Homo sapiens: one gene and its partners. The protein of the gene in region 1 interacts with the protein of each later gene in a pairwise test. Each region holds a gene or a part of one and is shown on either strand. Other genes may lie near its edges.

Region 1 (3,848 bases):
CAGCATTGTGTCTCCCCAGGAGGATGTATAAGCTCTGGGTGCTTGTTTGAAATCAATTTTGTCCTCTCATAATCACACCTCATGTGTAACTGACAAGCAGAGAGTGAACTCTGGGTTCAGTCCTGCCATTGATTCTTCCTCACTGTGAGGAAGAGAAAAAATTAGTAGCACAATTCCTGGCATTTGGTAGGTGTTCAATAAATATTAACTTCTGTCATCCCTGCTAGGGACTTAAAAGAATGAGTGGAACTGTCTAGAGATGCTCACCGTTGCATTTTACTGAGTAAGGTCCCATGAGAAATATGTTTATCATATTCAGACGAGGCCTCTTGTCCTAGTGATCCTACTTGTTTTATGCTGGCCTAAGTGGATGCTGGGACTCACTGTGCTTAATGAATGTTAATGAAGGTGATGAAGACCTTTTAGGAGATGATTAACCTATAAAGTCCTCCTTCTGCTTTCAAGTGGCTTTATAAGAAGCACACAGAGAGTCAACACTTTGAAAAGAATGAATACAAATGAGAATCATGTCTGCTTTGCAAGAGGAAAGTTTATTAGGCGATTTGGGGAACTGCAATAAAGGTAGAAGCAGCAGAGAGAACAAAACACCTCGTATGCCACTGTCACAGCTCCAACCTCTGACCATCAGAACTCAGACTGACTACAGGAGAGGGACCTGGGGTGAGGAGGATCAAGTAGCCCTAGGCTCAGAGTCAGACCCAAACGCTGGGCATTTGTTCTCCTTCCAGACCATGATTTGTGGTGATGCCTCGGGGTGGGGTCCGGTGGCTGATGGTTGTCAGAGAGGCAGAACTGGCCCACCGATGGTAGTTCTGTCTTCATGCTATACTTCTGCTGGCCCCAGGGTATCTAGTACCCAAAGGTGTTGCAAGGCCCACAGCGGGAACGAGGACCACAAGGATTGGTGACACAGGATCCAATGGGCTTTTCACATGCATTGGTGGTGGCGCAGGGGTTGGAGGGCAGCCTGGGATGCAGAAGCATTAGACTGTCAGCATGAGAAGGGTGATTCAAACAAGGGAGACTCAATCCAAAGAGACACAGAAACAAGCAGAACCCGTTCTCTGATGTCCTAGGAAGCCATGCCTTGTTTGGATCACTCCTTCTACAGAGTTCTGATACAGTGGCAGAAATGAGCAAAGAACATGTAAGGTGGAATCCCAGCCTTCCTTGTATGACCCTAGACACACAAGAAAGTCACTTCCTCCTTCTAAGCCTCAGCTTTCCCACCTGTAAGGTAGGACTGGTAGTACCAACCACACAGGATTATGAAAATTCCACAAGACTGTGTTCATAAAAATATTATGTTCGCTGGCAACTGCTGTACTGTTAGTTATTGATCATCAACCCTATTGACACTCAAATGCTCATCTATAAGAAGGTGATAATGATTCCCACTCTGCCTGCCTCAGATGATTCTAACAAGAATTAATGAAACGGTGGATTTGAAAGTTCTGTTTAAATCAGAAAAAGTGATCATTGTTACAGTTTCATTTTCCTTTTTGTGGTGACAAGACAGTCCTGAAGACAGAAAGATTTATTTGGCCATCAACATCCAAAAAATCTCTACTGGAGGAAGGAGTCAAGTCCCATGACTATCTTTTGTAAAAGAAAGTATCTTTAGCCCAGATAATGTTAGCAACAAATATCCTACACTTCCCACGGCTGTAATATAAAACTCTCGCCTCTACAGACAGATTGGCATCTGAAACTTGATTTTCAAAGTCTCTGTTTTATCCTACAGTAGAACAGTGCCTGTCCCTTGCAGGGGTGCCGTCCGCCAGGTACTCACTTGCAGTCCTCGCTCTCCAGCAGGCTCCGGTATGTGTTGATCTCACACTCCAGCCGCGCCCGCACGTCCAGCAGCACCTGATACTCCTGGTTCTGCCGCTCCAGGTCACTGCGGATCTCCGCCAGCTGGGACTCCACGTTGGTGATCAGGCTCTGCACCTGGGACAGCTGGGAGCTGTAGCGGGCCTCGCTCTCTGTCAGCGTGTTTTCCAGAGAGTATCGCTGTGGTGGGAAAGATCAGGAATGTCAGAGAGCTGCTCCTTATAGGGTTCCTCCATGGGGTTCGAAAAAACTCACAAGCTCCAAGAGCTAAGAAGAGTGTGTGGCCCCAAGGGCATCCCCAAGACTCTGCCTCCCAAGTTCCCATCGCTCACCAGCAGGTCTGAACAATACACACCAGGTTGTGCTGGGCCTGCAGCTCGATCTCCAGGGCATTGACTGTGCGTCTCAGCTCGATGATCTCCGCCTGGTAGGACTGCAGCTGCTCCGAGCTGGATACCACCTGCTTGTTCAGCTCCTCGGTCTGAAACACCCAAGGGGAGAAAGGATCAGACCCTGCCTCCGGGGCCCTGGGGGGCCTCGGGTCCTGAGTGGCCACGTGCTTAGATGCCCACCTGCGTGGCGAACCATTGCTCCACTTCCCTGCGGTTGGTTTCCACCAGGGCCTCATACTGATTCCTGGTCTCGTTCAGGACCTGGTTCAGGTCCACAGCGGGAGCAGCGTCCACCTCCACGTTGAGGCGGTCTCCAAGCTGGCAGCGCAAGGTGTTGACTTCCTAATGGAGAAAAGGGAAGAAATAAACCCACAGAAAGAAGTCTTTCAATAACTTCTTTGAGGCAGTTCAATATAATGGGAAGAGGATTGCATTGCAGCTTAGGAAACATGAGTTGAAGCCCAGCTGTCACCTCTGGAAATTCTGGCCTCTTCTCTGAATCCCTTCCCTCATCTGTATGATACGGCTGCTTCATTAAATGATTGCTAATATTTCTACCCAGTCCAAGATTCTATCATTTCTTTCTTATTTCCCCTTTGCTCAGTGATAAGCCTGGCATGATAATTGGCTTACAATTGTTGCTACTTAAATATAGAGAAACCAGGTTTCATTCCTCCTATTTATTTCATGGGATACTACTAGAGTATGACACATGTTTTCATCATGAAAACGTCTAATGTTTGAGACATGCATCTGATTTCGTAGTATTGCATTCAGCCATGAGATCTGAATCAACCATTATTTGAGTTATTTCATTTCTCCCGTTTTTCCCATCCATCAGTTCATCCATCCATCCATTCATCCATCTATCCATTTATCTAGCTTGAGTTCTAGTTATCTAGGTGAAACAGAGTGTAAGAATGTTTTCTATCTCCTTCCAGTCTTGGTCATTAACCTACCTGGCACCTCTTCAGAAGCTAATAGATAGCATCAAACAGTAGACAGTAGTTTAAAGATATTTGTGTGACCTTTCAGCCATACATGTCTGGTCCCAAGGGGAAGTAGGTCAGCTTACCACACTCCTTTATGTAAAAAAGGTAAGCTGTCACTCATTCCCCAACAAGCCCCAAAGTATGTTTTGAGCAACCAGCAAAATGTTGTTAGGCCTAGGGTGCTTAGCAAATCAAATCCTACCTTATCCTATTCAGGGGGATCACAGAGCTCTCAGTATTGGGATATTGGGGGCTGGGACTCTTACCTGCTCATGGTTCTGCTTGAGGGACAGCAGCTCCTCCTTCAGGGACTCCATCTGGGCCTCCAGGTCAGACCTGCACAGGGTCAGCTCATCCAGAATCCTGCGCAGGCTGTTGATGTCGGACTCCACCAGCTGCCGCAGGGACTGCTCCGTCTGGTACCTGCACACACAGCCAGAGGTCAAAAGAGGTCCAAAAAAAAAAAGTCTTTGTTTCCCGGCCTTTACTTGGCTGACTTAGTCAATTTTATTATATTTTGAAATATTTTGAATTTAAAAAATTAAGGGAGAAAATACTCCTGTACTGAGTGAGAAGGCCTATTTTGTCACTGAGACACACAGAAAAGGTA
Region 2 (7,032 bases), on another chromosome or scaffold:
TTGAATACACATCCTCCTTGAAAGCCCTTCTCCCTTAAATTTCCTGACAACACAGTCTCTCTTGGTTTTTTATAAACACATTCATTCATTCATTCACCATTAATTCATACAACAAATATTTACTGAGTACCTACTAAGTGCTCAGAGCCAAATACTAAAGATACAGTGGTAAACAAGGTAGACAAGGTGCATTAAACAAACTGAACACATCAAACAAATATTAACAATTGTGATAAGTCCTTCAGAGAAGTACAGAGGTTCTGGGAGTACTAAATAAGGGAGCTGATCAAGCCTGAGAGAGGGGTCAAGAGAAGACAGTTCCATTAGCACTTCAGTTAGGGCCTAAAGGAAGGAGTCAGCTAAGCCATGGGGTAGAGGTAAAGGCCAACAGTATGTGTAACATCTCTGTAGAGACAGAGAGAGGAAGATGAGTGGACAAAAGCAATAAGGAGGACTAACAATGAGGTAGGAAAAAACTAGACTGGAGTGTCACAGAAGTTAAGGTCTCCCACTGGCCAAATGCAACAACTGAAACATATTTATTAAAGCCCATGCATTCAAAATGGTAATTTTATAAAGTAAAGATCAAATTTTTTTTAAATCCTAACTCCTTGGATACCATTAGAAATAATGAGACCGCCAACTCCTTTTTACAAAAATTGTCCATTAAAAAGAAAAAAAATTATCTTGCCTTTACTATACAAACTGTACATCAGGGTGATCAAGCAGTCTTGGAGGATGAAGAAAAAGTTCCTTTTACAGAAGAAATTTCAGTGTGATAGGGAGGAAATTAGAAAATCACCATTTTGCAACTCCTAATAAGATAACTGATTGAGGCAATGATCATCAAGGAATGAAACCATTAGGTTAAAGTAGTAAGATAAAGATACGCTGTCACCATCTGAACCTACTGATCAATCTTAGCATCACCAAAAGTGAGATAGCCTCTCAACGTGACGTGATATGAAGCACACAGCACCACTTGCAAAATGTTCTTACCAAAAAAGCAAACGTCAAGTCCCTAAAGCAAACTTTATTTACCACAATTATGAGAGATAAAGTTAAATAATATTACAAGGAAGCAGAAGAAAAATACAGAATGGGGGGCATTTAACAAGACAACTGGAAAATTCATGAGGGAAAAAACAGAATGGGGAATTCTCTACACTAAAAAGAACTTAAGGGACATGACAAGAAAATGAATGTGTGGTCCTTGTTTGGATCATGATTCAAACAAACCAAATAAGAAAACGCTTTTGAGACAAATAGGGAACTCTGGTTATAGATGGGGTATTAGATAGTACCAAGGAATTATTGTGGGTTGGAATGAGGTACACATTTTTAAAGAGAGAAGTATAGTAAAGTAAGCATGAAATGACACGCTTGGGATTTGCTCTCAAATACATCAGTGATTTAAAAAAAGGAAAAAGGAGATGGACAATAACAAGTTCTGACTTTTGATGACTCCAGCTGGTAGGGTTCACATCACTTCTTTTTTTCTTTGTTAGCATTTTTCATAAAGAACAGTAAGTGTTCACTGGATTTACTGAGATGATTAATGACCTTAACTTATTTGATAAAATAAAGAAAACAGAAACCAGATTGGCGAATAGTTTGTAAAGGGGAGGAGAGTGGTAGCTGAAGTGAAATGTGGGATTAAAGTAGTTTTGTTGTTGTTGTTATTACTGTTTCAAGAAAAAATAAACTTTGAGTTACTTAAATGTGGATGAGAAGGTGAAGACTGGGGAACGGAGTACAGCTAGAATAATCAACAGCACATGCGCCCTGAAAAGGCAGGAGGTTATAAGATCCTGAGTCAGGTAAAAAGAGGAAAAGGTGGATAGAGGGAGAAAAAAAATAGATTTGGTGGAGGGAAGTTGAAGGAATTGCAATAAGGGATTTTATTTTCTCTTTGGTTTTTTTTTTTTTTTTTTGAGACAGAGTCTTGCTCTGTCACCCAGGCTGGAGTCCAGTGGTGCGATCTCAGCTCACTGCAACCTCTGCCTATGGGGTTCAAGCAATTCTCATGTCTCAGCCTCCCGAGTAACTGGGACTACAGGTGTGCACTACCACGCCCATCTAATTTTTGTATTTTTAGTGGAGATGGGTTTCACCATGTTGGCCAGGCTGGTCTCTGACCTCAGGTGATCCGCCCACCTCAGCCTCCCAAAGTGCTGGGATTACAGATGTGAGCCACTGCGCTCAGCCCTTTTTTGTCTTGGAAGTAGCAGTCAAGGCCATCTGCTAAAAGTAAGAACAGATAAATTTGAGATTTGAAGAGAATAAAGGTTTAAAATTACTGCTATAGAAAGCAGGAGAATAAGTTGAAAGTAGAAATTTCACAGGATTACCAGGCAACATTGAGACCTGAGGTTGGTGATCAAGAATTTAGAGAGGTATTATCCCCTCTTCCATAATGTGTGATCTTTCTCAAGCAATATCTACACAGACAGTTGGGCTTACAAAGGCTTGGGGTTTTTTCAGGCAAATGTGACACAAAAACAAGGAAGTTTAGCATATTGGCAAGAGATATAGAAATGGAAGGCCATGGAATCTAAGCTAGTTAGAGTAGTGAAGACAGAAAGAGCTAACAGAGCAGAAAGTATCAGTTGTCGAAAGATCCAACAGTCTTCTGAAGGATCCTCGATAATCCATGCTTTGGCTTGGAAAGGACTTCTGGCGGTTGTCACAAAGTCAAATGTGACTTTTCCCCTTGATTCACAGGTATTGCCAACTGAGATAGGAATAGCTGTGATTAGTAAAAGGGAGCTAATAAGTATGAGGAATACATGGACGGGCATCTCTATACTGAGATAGGACAAGCAGTGGTCCTAACAATGCTGCTCGCTAATTTATGGTCAAAATCCTACTTGGCTTGGGGATAGGAGATGGCAGCATTTAAGTGTTAGTGTTTCTAAGAGTTTTGTTCTAGTACTCTCCTCTTACTCTGGAATCAGGTCTCCTAAATTACATCATCCATATCTACCACTTTAAATACTACTTACGTTCTGATGGCTTTCATAAATATATACAACTACCCAAGGGACACCTCAAACTCATTATCTACCCACAAACATCTGCTCTTGCTTTAGTATTCTGGATCTTAGTGAAGAGCAAGGGATCCTTCAGTTACGCCACCCAGAAGCCCAAGATACCTTTATCCAGTCATTCGCTTTTATTGATTCTACAAGTTAAATCTCTCTCAAATTCACATCCTGTTTTTTCTCTCCATTCTTAACTGTCACTGCCTTAATTCAGGTCTTCACTATATCTTGCTCAGATTTTGGCAACAGCTTCACCAGATCTCTGCCTCCATTCCAACCCACCTATAATCTATCTTTGTATTTCTCTAAGAGATACTTCTAAAAATCTGATTATTTTCCTGTCTACTTAATCCTACAACAGTTTAGAATTGCTTAAAGGACAGCTCCTTAGTAAAACATATAAGGCACGCTAATAATCCAATTCATATCTATCTCTCCAACTCTCACTACTGACCCTGAGGTCATTTATGCATTAAAAAAACTGCACTGATCTAGTTATACTGGTCCCAAAGGCATTATACTCTGCCATAAACCATGCCATGTTATTTCCTCTGCGTGGATACCCTAGAATCTCCTTGACTATGAGCAAGGATTGTGGTCTTCAACCTTGTACACCCAATGCCTGACATACGATATATACAATAAATGGATATTACATAACAAAATGAGCCCCTTTCAATTTTAAAATAGCACCAGATTCAAATTCCCATTTTCCTAAAAAAACCAAATGTAACTACAGTTACTCATAGTTGGAGAGACTTTATTTCAAGAAACAAAGGAAACACTTCACTTTTGCTGTTCTTTCCTTAACTACTTAAATATTTCATCAAATTTTGTATTTTTGCAGGATTGTAGAAAAGACGAATGACTGGAATACTTGAAAGAATAATTCTGAGAATACTATTCTATTATCTTCATCCTACTGTTAGGCAATCCTTGAAATTCATGTTTAATAAGTTAATAACTAATCTTCAGTGACTGAGTAGGATGAATTTTAGCTAGTCAATCAAGTTACTTAAAAAAATGAAACAGAAGTAATTTTAAGAGGCATCAGATTGGAAAAGTGAAAAGAGCACTAGAATGAGTAGTTGAATTTGCATCCCTGTACTTCTTCTAGAGAGGTATACAGGTAAGTCACAATCTCTCAGGTTCCTCTCTTCACCCATAAAATGGGGATAACAAAAGTATTATTTCACAGGGTTCTTGTGAGAATAAGTTAATCCATACAGAACAACCCCTGGAACCTACTGCCATACCACCTAGTAAGGATGGTTAGTAAGGAAGCCATCAAAGACTAATAACCAGACTGTCTCAAAGGGACTTGGGAGCCAACTTGAAAAGGCTTGCACTGGCCAAAGATGTAACAATTTAAGCATCAATAAGAATGGTAACTGCAATGGATTAAAAAATAGTAACTAGTTTAAAGGCTGCAGTTTCTGACATTAAAAAAAAATTGGTCATCTTTGGAGAATGCTAGATAACCAACTCTTTATTCTGAAAACCAGTAATAAAGAGAAAGAATCAACCAAACAGATGAAGTCAAGTTTCTCCTCACAGAAGTATTTCAACAAATAAATGAATCCAGGTGGAATGGCACTATTTGTAACCCCTAATGAATTAATGGATCTAGGTAATGATCACCAATGGCTCAATGGCTGATCACTCAAAAAAAAAAGATATTATATGTCTTCTGATAAAAAATAGGCCTATAAAATAGTCTTGCAAACAAACAACAAAACAACAAAATATATATATGTACGCCCCAGATCTAACCCAATCATCAAGAAATACAGAGAACAAAGGAATGTGTTAAACTATACCATAGGCGTGCAATCAGAAAAGTCTTGACTAAAAAACTCTATAGGATAAATGATCTGTTTTCTTCAACAAATTAAAAAATAAAAAAGAGAGGCCAGGCGCGGTGGCGCACACCTGTAATCCCAGCACTTTGGGAGGCCGAGGCAGGCAGATCACGAGGTCAGGAGTTCCAGACCAGCCTGGCCAATATGGTAAAACTCCGTCTCTACTAAAAATACAAAAATTAGCTGGGCGTGGTGGTGTGCGCCTGTAGTCCCAGCTACTCAGGAGGCTGAGGCAGAAGTATCGCTTGAACCTGGGAGGCGGAGGTTGCAGTGAGCCGAGGTCGTGCCACTGCACTCCAGCCTGGGCGACAGAGCAAGACTCCGTCTCAAAAAATAAAAAATAAATAAAAAAGAGAGATAAAAGAGGAGCCTATGGAGATTTAAGACAGGCAAAACCAAATACTGTTTACATACTTGAATGACAAAATATAAAGTAAGAAAATGATCACCATAAAAGCCAAGACTGCAGGTCCTCTGATGGGGAAGCAATTGGTAGGGAAATGTGGTAGGCTTCTGAACTGGCTGGCCAGGAACCATCTCCTGACATGGGCAGTGATTACAAGGGTGTTAACCTTTGTAAACTTATATATAATTCATTAAGCTGTACTTTTGTGCAGTTTCTCTATTTGTTATTTTTAACAACAAAAATTTAAATGGAATGATCCTAAACACAGGGACCTTATAATCCTAACTGTGCCAATCAGTGTTCTCCCCAGTTGCTATCATATTTAAACATGAAAAGTAACATTCCTAATCCTTTGGAATATATTAATAATTCTTATAAAAAGTCCACTAAAGTATTCTGAATGCACTCAATAATGTCAGCTAGTATCATCACGGTTTTGTATTTGAAGCTGAAAACCTCATACTTACTAGTTTGCTGCTGCTGCTGTGTATTAAATCCTCCAAATCCCAGTCCAGTTCCCAAACCAGTACCTAAACCAGTACTAGTTCCCGTTGTTGTGCCAAAACCAGTACCAAATCCAAAACCTTTGTTCTGAGTACCACCAAAGAGTCCTTTGAATGAAAAATTGGAACTTCGTAAGTTAAAAAAAAAAAAAAATCTGACCTCTACTTCATTTACTTCTATGAATGACTTAAGATGGCCTCTTACCAGTAGTGCCTGTGTTAGTTGGGGCAGAAAAGCTGAATGCAGAACCTGCAGTTGTAGATGTTGTCCCAAATCCTCCAAACCCACCTAATTAAAAAAGAACAAAAATAGAAAGGAAGAATCTTTTGTATATATAAAGGCAACTTCTTTTTAAAATTATTTTATAATTGCTACATATAAAATCAAAATATATTGATCTAATTTTTCCTTTCCCTACTTTCAAGATCAATTTTTTAAAAAACTATACTACCAATCAAGAAGTCAAAATGTTACAAGAAATGAACTAAGCATTTAAAATAGAAATATCACAATGTAATATATACCCTTCAATTAAAGGGGTGGTTAACAGTTACAGCTGAGAAAACACATTAAGCCTATTGCCATAATTCTAAAATGACTATGTATGTACTTTTAGAGGAGGTGTTGCAAATTCATATGCCTAGAAGATTTAGACTGATAACAGTAAAGAGTAAAGTAGACTATGTGTTTACTGATAGGTGGAACTGTTTAAAATGAATAGTTTTTTAGATCAGCAGTTCCTAAATTCCAGCAGATACAAGAAAGGTAGTTTAGCAGTGTCACATATTCCCATTTTTTACCCCAAGAGAAACAGGAAATCTGGATTTTCTATGTAAAATTTATTGGTTTTTGGCTGGGCGCGGTGGCTCATGCCTGTAATCCCAGCACTTTGGGAGGCCGAGGGGGGTGGATCACAAGGTCAGGAGATCGAGACCATCCTGGCTAACACGGTGAAACCCCGTGTCTACTAAAAATACAAAAAATTAGCCGGGCGTGGCGGCGGGCGCCTGTAGTCCCAGCTACTCAGGAGGCTGAGGCAGGAGAATGGCGTGGACCCGGGAGGTGGAGCTTGCAGTGAGCCAAGATCTTGCCACTGTACTCCAGCCCGGGCGACAGGGTGAGACTCCGTCTCAAAAAAAAAAAAAAAAAAAAAATTTATTGGTTTTTAAACCCTAATTCAACTACTTTTTTTTGCAAGGAATTCAAATGTTTTGAA
Region 3 (7,824 bases), on another chromosome or scaffold:
GTGTCCCCTGTCCCCCAACTTGTCCTCTGCCAGTCACCTTACCTGCAGCTTCACCTTCACACCATCCACGTCCAGAACTTTGTTCTGAAACAGACAGAACCAGGCAGCTCTGGCATGGGCCCAGCCCAGCCTCTGGTCCCACTAGCTTCACTGCCTTCCTGTCCCCTGAGACCTCCCAGCTCCCAGGTCCAGCCCAGCCCCTGCAGGCTTCCCTTAAGCCAATTTGACCTCACCCACACCTGCAAGTGCAGGCCTCTCCCGGCAGCCTCTGCACTATTCCTGCTTAGAGCCTCTTACGCTGACTTATTTGAACTCATGACCCCACCAGGCCTCTTACTGACACTGCCTCGGTTTCCTCATCTGCAAATGGGTGCAGTAACTAACGAGCTGCAACGCCTCAGCCTTCCCAGTAGCTCTTTTTGCTAATTTGAAAGACTCAGGATGGCTTGAACCCAGAAGTTGGAGGTTGCAGTCCACCATGATCACCACTGCACTCCAGCCAGGGCGACAGAGTGAGACCCTGCTTCAAAAGAATAAAAAATTAAAGCCACTCCTTGCTGGGATTGTCAGGGCTGGGCCTGGGCCTGTCTGACCCAAGGCAGTAACCGCAGATCCCAGAACTGCCTGGCAGCGTCCCCAGCCGGGCCCTCCCAGTTAACGATTAGACGTAAGGCAGGGAGTGGTCTAGCCCCAGTCCCATCTGTTGGGGTGGGGGCGGGGGGCTTCAGCCGCAGTCTGAGGCCCTGGGCAGCTGGAACCTGTGCCACCTCCTTCAGCCTGAGCTCCTGCTGTCAGAGTGCTTCTGGGTCTCCCGGGAACCAGGCAGGGCCATCTGCTGGGCTGGGGAGGACACCGCCTTCCCTGGCACCCTGAACGAGAGTGCGAACCAAATGGCCTCACCTCTTACCACCTGCCCGAGAGCCAAGAGGGAGGTGGGGAAGTGGGGACCAGACAGGACTGGCCTGCCCCCCTCGGGCACTTCAGTCGTCACTCCATCCCAGAGGACTTGAGGGGACTTGGAACCCCCAGACTGGAGGGAGCCCCTTTTCCTGTCCCTGGAACAGCCCTTCCTCCATCCTCCCTCTAACTGGCTCTAATTAAAGGGTGAGAAAAATGCAAATTTAAGATTTGCTGAGGACAAGCCGGCACCTCAGCACGAGGAATTCCAGCTGGTGGGGGTGGGGGTGGGCGCTCCTCACCCAAGAGCAGGGTCCTCTCCCCTAGGCAAGCCCTGGAAACCCTCGCTCAGGCTCTGCAGGGAGCATGTGCTTCTAGGGCCCAGTAAGGCCTCTGTACCGAGGCAGCACTGCTGGCCCCAAGTGGACGTGGCCCTTGACTTCCTCTGACCCACCACCCTGTAGGCAACAGTGTCCGCCTCCCCCAAGGCACAGGATATGGTCCCTCGGTAATGCCAGCCCCTGGCATAGGGCAACTAACTATGCTTGTCGGGTGCAGCCACCAGCCCAGGTGTTGGAAGGTCGAGGCAGGCAGCTTCTGGGGTCCAGGCCTCGAGCCTGTTGGTACCATGGGGATCAGAGAGAACTTGCTGCTCGGGTACCGGCGGGACTCTGATGTGGGGCCAGGCCAGGGCCTCCACTCACCCGGAAGTCAATGCCTACGGTGGAGATGAAGGTCCCCGCCAGGAAAGCACCATCCTTGAATCGCACCAGCAGACAGGTCTTCCCCACACCCGAGTCCCCCACCAGCATGACCTAGGACAAGCAGGAGGGTTGGGGGGAGTCTGGTCTGCCCTGAGCTGGCCTGGTCAGAAGGGGGCTGCAGGTGAGGAGCAGGAGTGGAGGGAGGCAGCCCAGGCCTGCAGGCTCAGCGGGGCCAGGGACCCCGATGGGCTGGACACCCAGCGTATGCCTCTGAAAGGCTGGGGCTGCTCTGTCCTTCTGCACAGTGGCCGTCTCAGTCAGCGGGGAGTGAGGGCAGCCACCTGCATCCCGGACCCTCCCTAACGTCCATACCCCCACACGGTGGACAGCATCTGGGAGGGGAGCAGGTGGGGTGGCAGCTGGGTACCTCCTAAGAGACTTGGGGAGGCCTCTGCCGGGGGCTTCTCCACATCCCAGTAGGGACATGACCCCAGCAAGGCTCGAGGAATTTGCCCCATTAGGATCAGATCTCGATCTGAAGAGGGACCTGGGCCAAGTCTGAGGTTGGGGGGAGGTGCAAGTGGGCAGCAGTCAGGCCTTCTCCCCGAAACCTGTGCTACCAAACCCAAAATGGTCCTCCCAGCCCCCTGCCAAGTCCACACAGCCTCTGCCTTGGTCTGGAGTCCCAGGGTTCCCCATCCATCTGGCAAACCTCTTCCCCCCAGCAAAAAAAAAAAAAAAAAAAAAAGGCCCACAGCCGCTGGGTTGAGGGAGGGCAGCATACGGGAAATGGTGAGACCCCGGGCGGGGGCCAGGGCACTGGGGCGCGGGACCCCTTGTGCCACCATGCCGCCTGGGGGGTGGGGGACAGGCCCTGCCAGCTGTTGGATACCCCAGACCTGGGATGGACAGCTGTGTGTGCACGATGCACCGTGCAAGCCCCACGGGGTTCCTCCCGCGTCGGCTCCGCGCCCTGGGGCCGCGGGCCCTGCACCCCCTGTCCGACCCCCAACCCTTGGCTCAGGCCGGGCGCCACCTGCTGCGCTGGCCTGGGGGGCGGGTGCCTGGCTCACCTTGAAGGCGACGTCGTAGAAGTCGACACCGCCGCCAAGCGAGGGCCGGCCGGGCTGCAAGGGCCCGTTGGGCGGCGCGTCGGGGCCGGAAAGCGCAGTCCCGGAGCGCGCCGGTCGGGCCCCGTTGGCGGTGGGCAGCGTGGAGGCAGCGGGGGTGCTGGCCCCTTTGCTCTTGGGGGTCTTCTTCCTGGACATGGCGGGCGGGCGCTCAGTGTGCTCCCGCTGCAGCCGCCGTGCCCTGGGCCGTCCCGCACCCCGCGCCCGCCGAGCCCGACCCGGACCCGAACCCTTCCCCTGGCGGCGGCGGCGGCGGCGGCGGCGGCGGCGGCATCATCCCGGGCGCCCGGCTCGCGCCCCGCCCCCGCCGCTCCACGGGCGCGCAGCCACTCAGGCCCGGCCTCCCGCCGCCGCCGCCAATGCCGTGCGTGGGGCGGGGACATGCAAATACACCCCCGCTCGGCGGGGGGTGGGGGGCGGTCAGGAGGTCCGGGCCCCGTCCCGCCCCCGATCACGACCCCTGCCCGTGGCTGCCTTGGGGCCAGGAGCCAGCTGTGGGGTGACAGGCCTGGGCCAGGAGTCACCCCGGGATCCTGAATCCCCTCTGCTGGCTGCACACCACCCCAGCTCGGTGACCCCCAAACTGGACCGCCAGACCTGGGAGGAAGGGGTGTCCTGAGATGTGGGTGCTGGGGCAGAGGGCCCGCATGGACGGGCACCGCGGGCTTCTGTCTCCTTAGCCCCAGATGCCTAGCGCTTGGCCCGGTGCCCTTCACTGCTCCATCCCCTCCAGGGTAGGCGGGTCCAGGAAGCTCCAGCCCTGGCTTGGCAAACACACCAGGCTGCTGGGGCAGGCGCCCTGGGCTCAGGTGACAGCTGGTCACCGGGAGGACACAGCGGGCGCTGCGATCTCCCCCACAGCTTCTGCCTGCTGTGCACGCCTGGGGATCTGCGGGAAGGAGGAAGTCGCTGTGGCAGCCAGCCCCCGGCCCCCTGAGGGTCCCCTCCCACGGGACTCTGCCCTCAGGGTCTGAAAGGTGGAAAGCAGAGGCCCCTGCCCAGGCTGTGTGGCTGGCCCCTTGTCCTTCTCCTCCAGGTTCGGACCTTCAGGTGGCCAGGGCCGATTCTCCAAATCCTAAGCTGGTCCCTGGCAGACCCACCTCCCCAACCTGGGCTGCACTGGAGCTCTGTCACCCCCTCTCACAGAGAAGATGGGACTGCAGTGGTCAGAGCTGGGGCACAGTGGTCCAGAGGGGTGGTGTCCTTGGCATGCAGGGGCTTCTTGGTGTTTCTTTGGGAGCTGGAGAGATGACCCAGCTGTCCCCGGAGACCTGACAGCTGTCACCAGGACCTTGGGCCCTTCAGAGACCTGAGCCCTCCCAGCTGGCAGTGCCCAGAGTCCAAACAATTGGCTGCCTCTCGGGTCAGAGGCCTGAGAAAACACAGATGGGGGGCACTGCCCAGCAGAGTGATTCCTCGAGAGGGCCTGGCAGAGGCCGTGGAAGCCTGCCCTACAGCAAGCACTGTTGTGTGCCAGGCACACGACCTCTTCAAAGTTATCCTGCAAGGTGGGTACTGCCCTCAGTGTCCAGATGGGGAAACCGAGGCCCAGAAAGGCAAGGAGCCTGTGCAAGGTCAGCAGGCTAGGAAGGGCAGAGCTAGGATTTGTTCCTGTGATCTCCAGCTCCAGAGAACATAAACCGTCCCATGGCAGAAATCCCTGTAGACTTAATCCCCAGGAACCTGGCAGAGCTGGGGGTCAAACCCGGAAGCCCTCTCAGAACCCTTCCTTGTCTCACTCCTCTGGCCCCCCAGCTCTTCCAGACCAACCCCCAGTGTGTGTGCACTGGGCCTGGGTAGAGGCATTTAGCTTCTGCAGCTGCAGCCCTGGGGACTCCAGGTGTCCACCCGCGCTACAAGGCCTCTTTCAGGATGGCTGGCCCAGGGTCTGAGCTGGGGGCCTCAGCAGCTGCTGTGCACTGGCCCCAGGGTCCTGGGCAGTGGACTCCCAGTCCAGTGGACCCCGTCCTGCCAGCTGCTGCTCAGGTACCCCCAGGGCGCGGGCAGCAGGAGGAGTTGGGTGCAAGTAGGGCATCCTGCAGGGGGAGGAGTGCGGATGGGGCCCCCAGGAAGAGAAGGAGGCAGGCGCGCTGGAGAAAGTGGGAGGCCAGGCGGGGAGGGGAGCCTTGAGAGAGCAGAGGAAACGGGCTTGCGCTGGCAACCTTTAAAATTAGGAGAGTTTACATAAAAATCCAAGTCTCTGGTTTCTCTTGAAAATGGGGAGCTCTGGGTGCCTGCATCACAGACCCCTCTCTTGGCTTCCAGCAGGCCTCGGAATCTTTGATCATTATGTCTCTTGGTTGCTGTGTTTGCCATCTGTTTCACCCTCTGGAGTGTAAGCTCTCCGGGCACAGGAAGCAGCTTGTCTTGGTCAACTGCTGTCCCCAGCAGCCAGCTCTGGGCCTCCATAAGCAGTTATTAAATTGGTGAAAGAGGTGTGGTGGCTCACGCCTGTAATCCCAGCACTTTGGGAGGCTGAGCAGGCAGATCACTTGAGGCCAGGAGTTTGAGACCAGCCTGGCCAACATGGTGAAACCCCGTCTCTACTAAAAATACAAAAATTAGCTGGGCCTGGTGGCATACGCCTGTAATCCCAGCTACTCGGGAGGCTGAGGCAGGAGAATCGCTTGACCCCAGGAGGAGGAGGTTGCAGTGAGCTGAGATTGTGCTGTTGCATTCCAGCCTGGGTGACAGAGCGAGACTCTGGGGAAAAAAAAAAGAAAGAAAAGAAAAGAGAAAGAAATGTGACTTAGAAACACAGGCCTCACTTCAGGAGGACATGTCCTTGCTAACAAAGATTTAAGGCAAGTGTGATCAGTAGTGAGGGCAAGGCTTCTGGGGGAGGGAGGGTTTGCACTGGGCTTTGAGGATTGAGCTAGAGTCCGACACGAGAGAGAAAGACAGTCCCCAGGTGGAGGGAGTCAATATGCATAGGCTGAGAGTGCTAGGAGATGGGCACTTTGTGCCGAGGTGGCCAAAGTGTGGCCCAGTTCCTTGGAGGAAACGGGAGGTAATCAAGCTGGTAAGGTAGGATGGGGTCAGCTGGGAAGGGAAACCTGAGTGTTATTCCTAGGAGCTTGGAAATTGTACAGCGGGAAGTAGAGAGCTGTGCGTGGCTTTTGAGCAGAACAACAGAGGACGCTGTGCTACAGGAATATTGGGGACTGGCAGGAGGGGATGGATGGTGGAGCCTGTAGGCCTGGAGATGAGATTGATGGGGGTTGCAGTCACCCAGGGGAGGGATAATAGGAACAGAGAGGACCTTCAGGAAAGAAGCTGTAGGCCTGGAGGCAGGGAGGGGAGGGTCAGAGTCCATGCCCATGGGCAGAGACCAGTGGGATGCTGCAGTGGGTTAAAGATGGATTAAACCCCAGCACTTTGGGAGGCCGGGGCGGGCGGATCACCTGAGATCGGGAGTTCGAGACCAGCCTGGCCAACATGGAGAAACCCCGTCTCTACTAAAAATACAAAATTAGCCAGGTGTGGTGGCGGGCGCCTGTAGTCCCAGCTACTCAGGAGGCTGAGGCAGGAGAATCGCTTGAACCCAGGAGGCGGAGGTTGTGGTGAGCCGAGATCGCGCCATCGTACTCCAGCCTGGGCGACAAGAGCGAAACTTGGTCTCCACAAAAAAAAAAAAAAAAAAGGCCGGGCGCGGTGGCTCACGCCTGTAATCCCAGCAGCACTTTGGGAGGCCGAGGCAGGCAGACCACGAGGTCAGGAGATCAAGACCATCCTGGCTAACACAGTGAAACCCTGTCTCTACTAAAAATACAAAAAATTAGCCGGGTGTGGTGGCGGGCGCCTGTAGTCCCAGCTACTCGGGAGGCTGCGGCAGCAGAATGGCGTGAACCCGGGAGGTGGAACTTGCAGTGAGCGGAGATCGCACCACCACACTCCAGCCTGGGCGACGGAACAAGACTCCATCTCAAAAAACAACAACAACAACAACAAATAAAACTAGAAAAACTAGAACAGGCAGCCAGCGAGGGCAAGGCGGGGGCCGGCGAGGGCAAGGCGGGGGCCGGCGAGGGCAAGGCGGGGGCCGGCATGGTGGGAAAGTTCAGCAGGGAGGCCTTGGGATGTCCGGATTCTTGGCATCTTCAGACCTGGAGAAGAGAGGAGTCCTGTGGGCCAGGGCAGGTCCCTGAGACAGGGTCCGAGTTTGAGATGGGCCCTGGGAGCTGGGGGCGGAGAGTGAGGTCCGTGTTCCCCTGGGAGGGGTGCTACAGCCCCCCACCCTTCTGGTGCAGAGCTGGCTCTTCCAGGGAGGGGAAGGTCTCCACGGGTTCCTGTCCTCGAGCGGAGAGAGCGCCCTGGGTCTCCTTGGGGCCTTGCTCTGGGACTTTCGCTCCTGTTACCTTCTGACGGCCCGGCCCCCTGGCATCCTTACACCGTGCCCTCTAACTCCTGCCAGTTCCTTCTGACCGTCCTGGGTGTCTGGAAGGATGTGTGCTGTGAGCCCCCAGCCAAAACGACCCCTGGGAGCCATGGATCAGGACAGTCTCTTTCTGGCCCCCATTTTCCAGCCTCTTCCCTACACTCTGCCCCCAGAGTGGGGCCCTCGGGCTGGCCCTTGTGTGCCAGGAGAGGGGGCGCAGGCACGAGTGAGGCCTCCTCAGGCTTCCAGACTCTGCCTGGAGCCCCACCCTCAAGGGAGCCTGCCCTGGCTCCTCCTGCCCCACTTCTGGCTCCCTGGATGCTCTCCAGCCCTTCCCCAGCGGCTGCATGGCCGCTGTAGCAGCCTGGGAGCCTCCTGAGGACAGGGCCCTGTCCTGCCTACTCCTGTTCCCGCCAGGCACTCGAGCGAGAGCTCTGTGGCTGAGCAGCAGAGAGCTGGGTTGGACTTCAAGGGGCTCTTAGCAAGCCAGGGAGTGGCAAAGCCGCCACGGCCTGTGCCCCCAGGGCACCTCCCAAGACCCTCCTCTGGAGCTCAGCGGTCTGTGCCCTCCGCGGGGTCCCCGGCTTGCTATGTGCCCCTGGGCACGTGGCATTCCCTGTCTGGGCCTGCTCCCCTCTCCATGAAATGAGGGGGCAGGAGGAGCCGATCTCTGAGGTCCCTTCCAGCTCAAACACCTTATGTTCTATGAAATCCG

Evidence for each region.
Region 2: the proteins of KRT33B (region 1) and NUP54 interact in binary tests that used the Homo sapiens proteins (3 or more experiments, as listed by UniProt).
Region 3: the proteins of KRT33B (region 1) and RAB26 interact in binary tests that used the Homo sapiens proteins (3 or more experiments, as listed by UniProt).

The regions. Positions count from the first base shown.
Region 1 is NC_000017.11:41,362,966-41,366,813, forward strand, and holds the end of KRT33B (keratin, type I cuticular Ha3-II), read right to left. Parts: intron 3,662-3,848; coding exon 3,505-3,661; intron 2,589-3,504; coding exon 2,427-2,588; intron 2,336-2,426; coding exon 2,210-2,335; intron 2,035-2,209; coding exon 1,814-2,034; intron 989-1,813; coding exon 871-988; 3' UTR 533-870; downstream 1-532.
Region 2 is NC_000004.12:76,138,370-76,145,401, forward strand, and holds part of NUP54 (nucleoporin p54), read right to left. Parts: intron 6,105-7,032; coding exon 6,021-6,104; intron 5,924-6,020; coding exon 5,780-5,923; intron 1-5,779. UniProt on the Homo sapiens protein: Component of the nuclear pore complex, a complex required for the trafficking across the nuclear membrane.
Region 3 is NC_000016.10:2,143,829-2,151,652, reverse strand, and holds the start of RAB26 (ras-related protein Rab-26), read right to left. Parts: upstream 3,029-7,824; 5' UTR 2,870-3,028; coding exon 2,675-2,869; intron 1,713-2,674; coding exon 1,602-1,712; intron 85-1,601; coding exon 43-84; intron 1-42. UniProt on the Homo sapiens protein: The small GTPases Rab are key regulators of intracellular membrane trafficking, from the formation of transport vesicles to their fusion with membranes.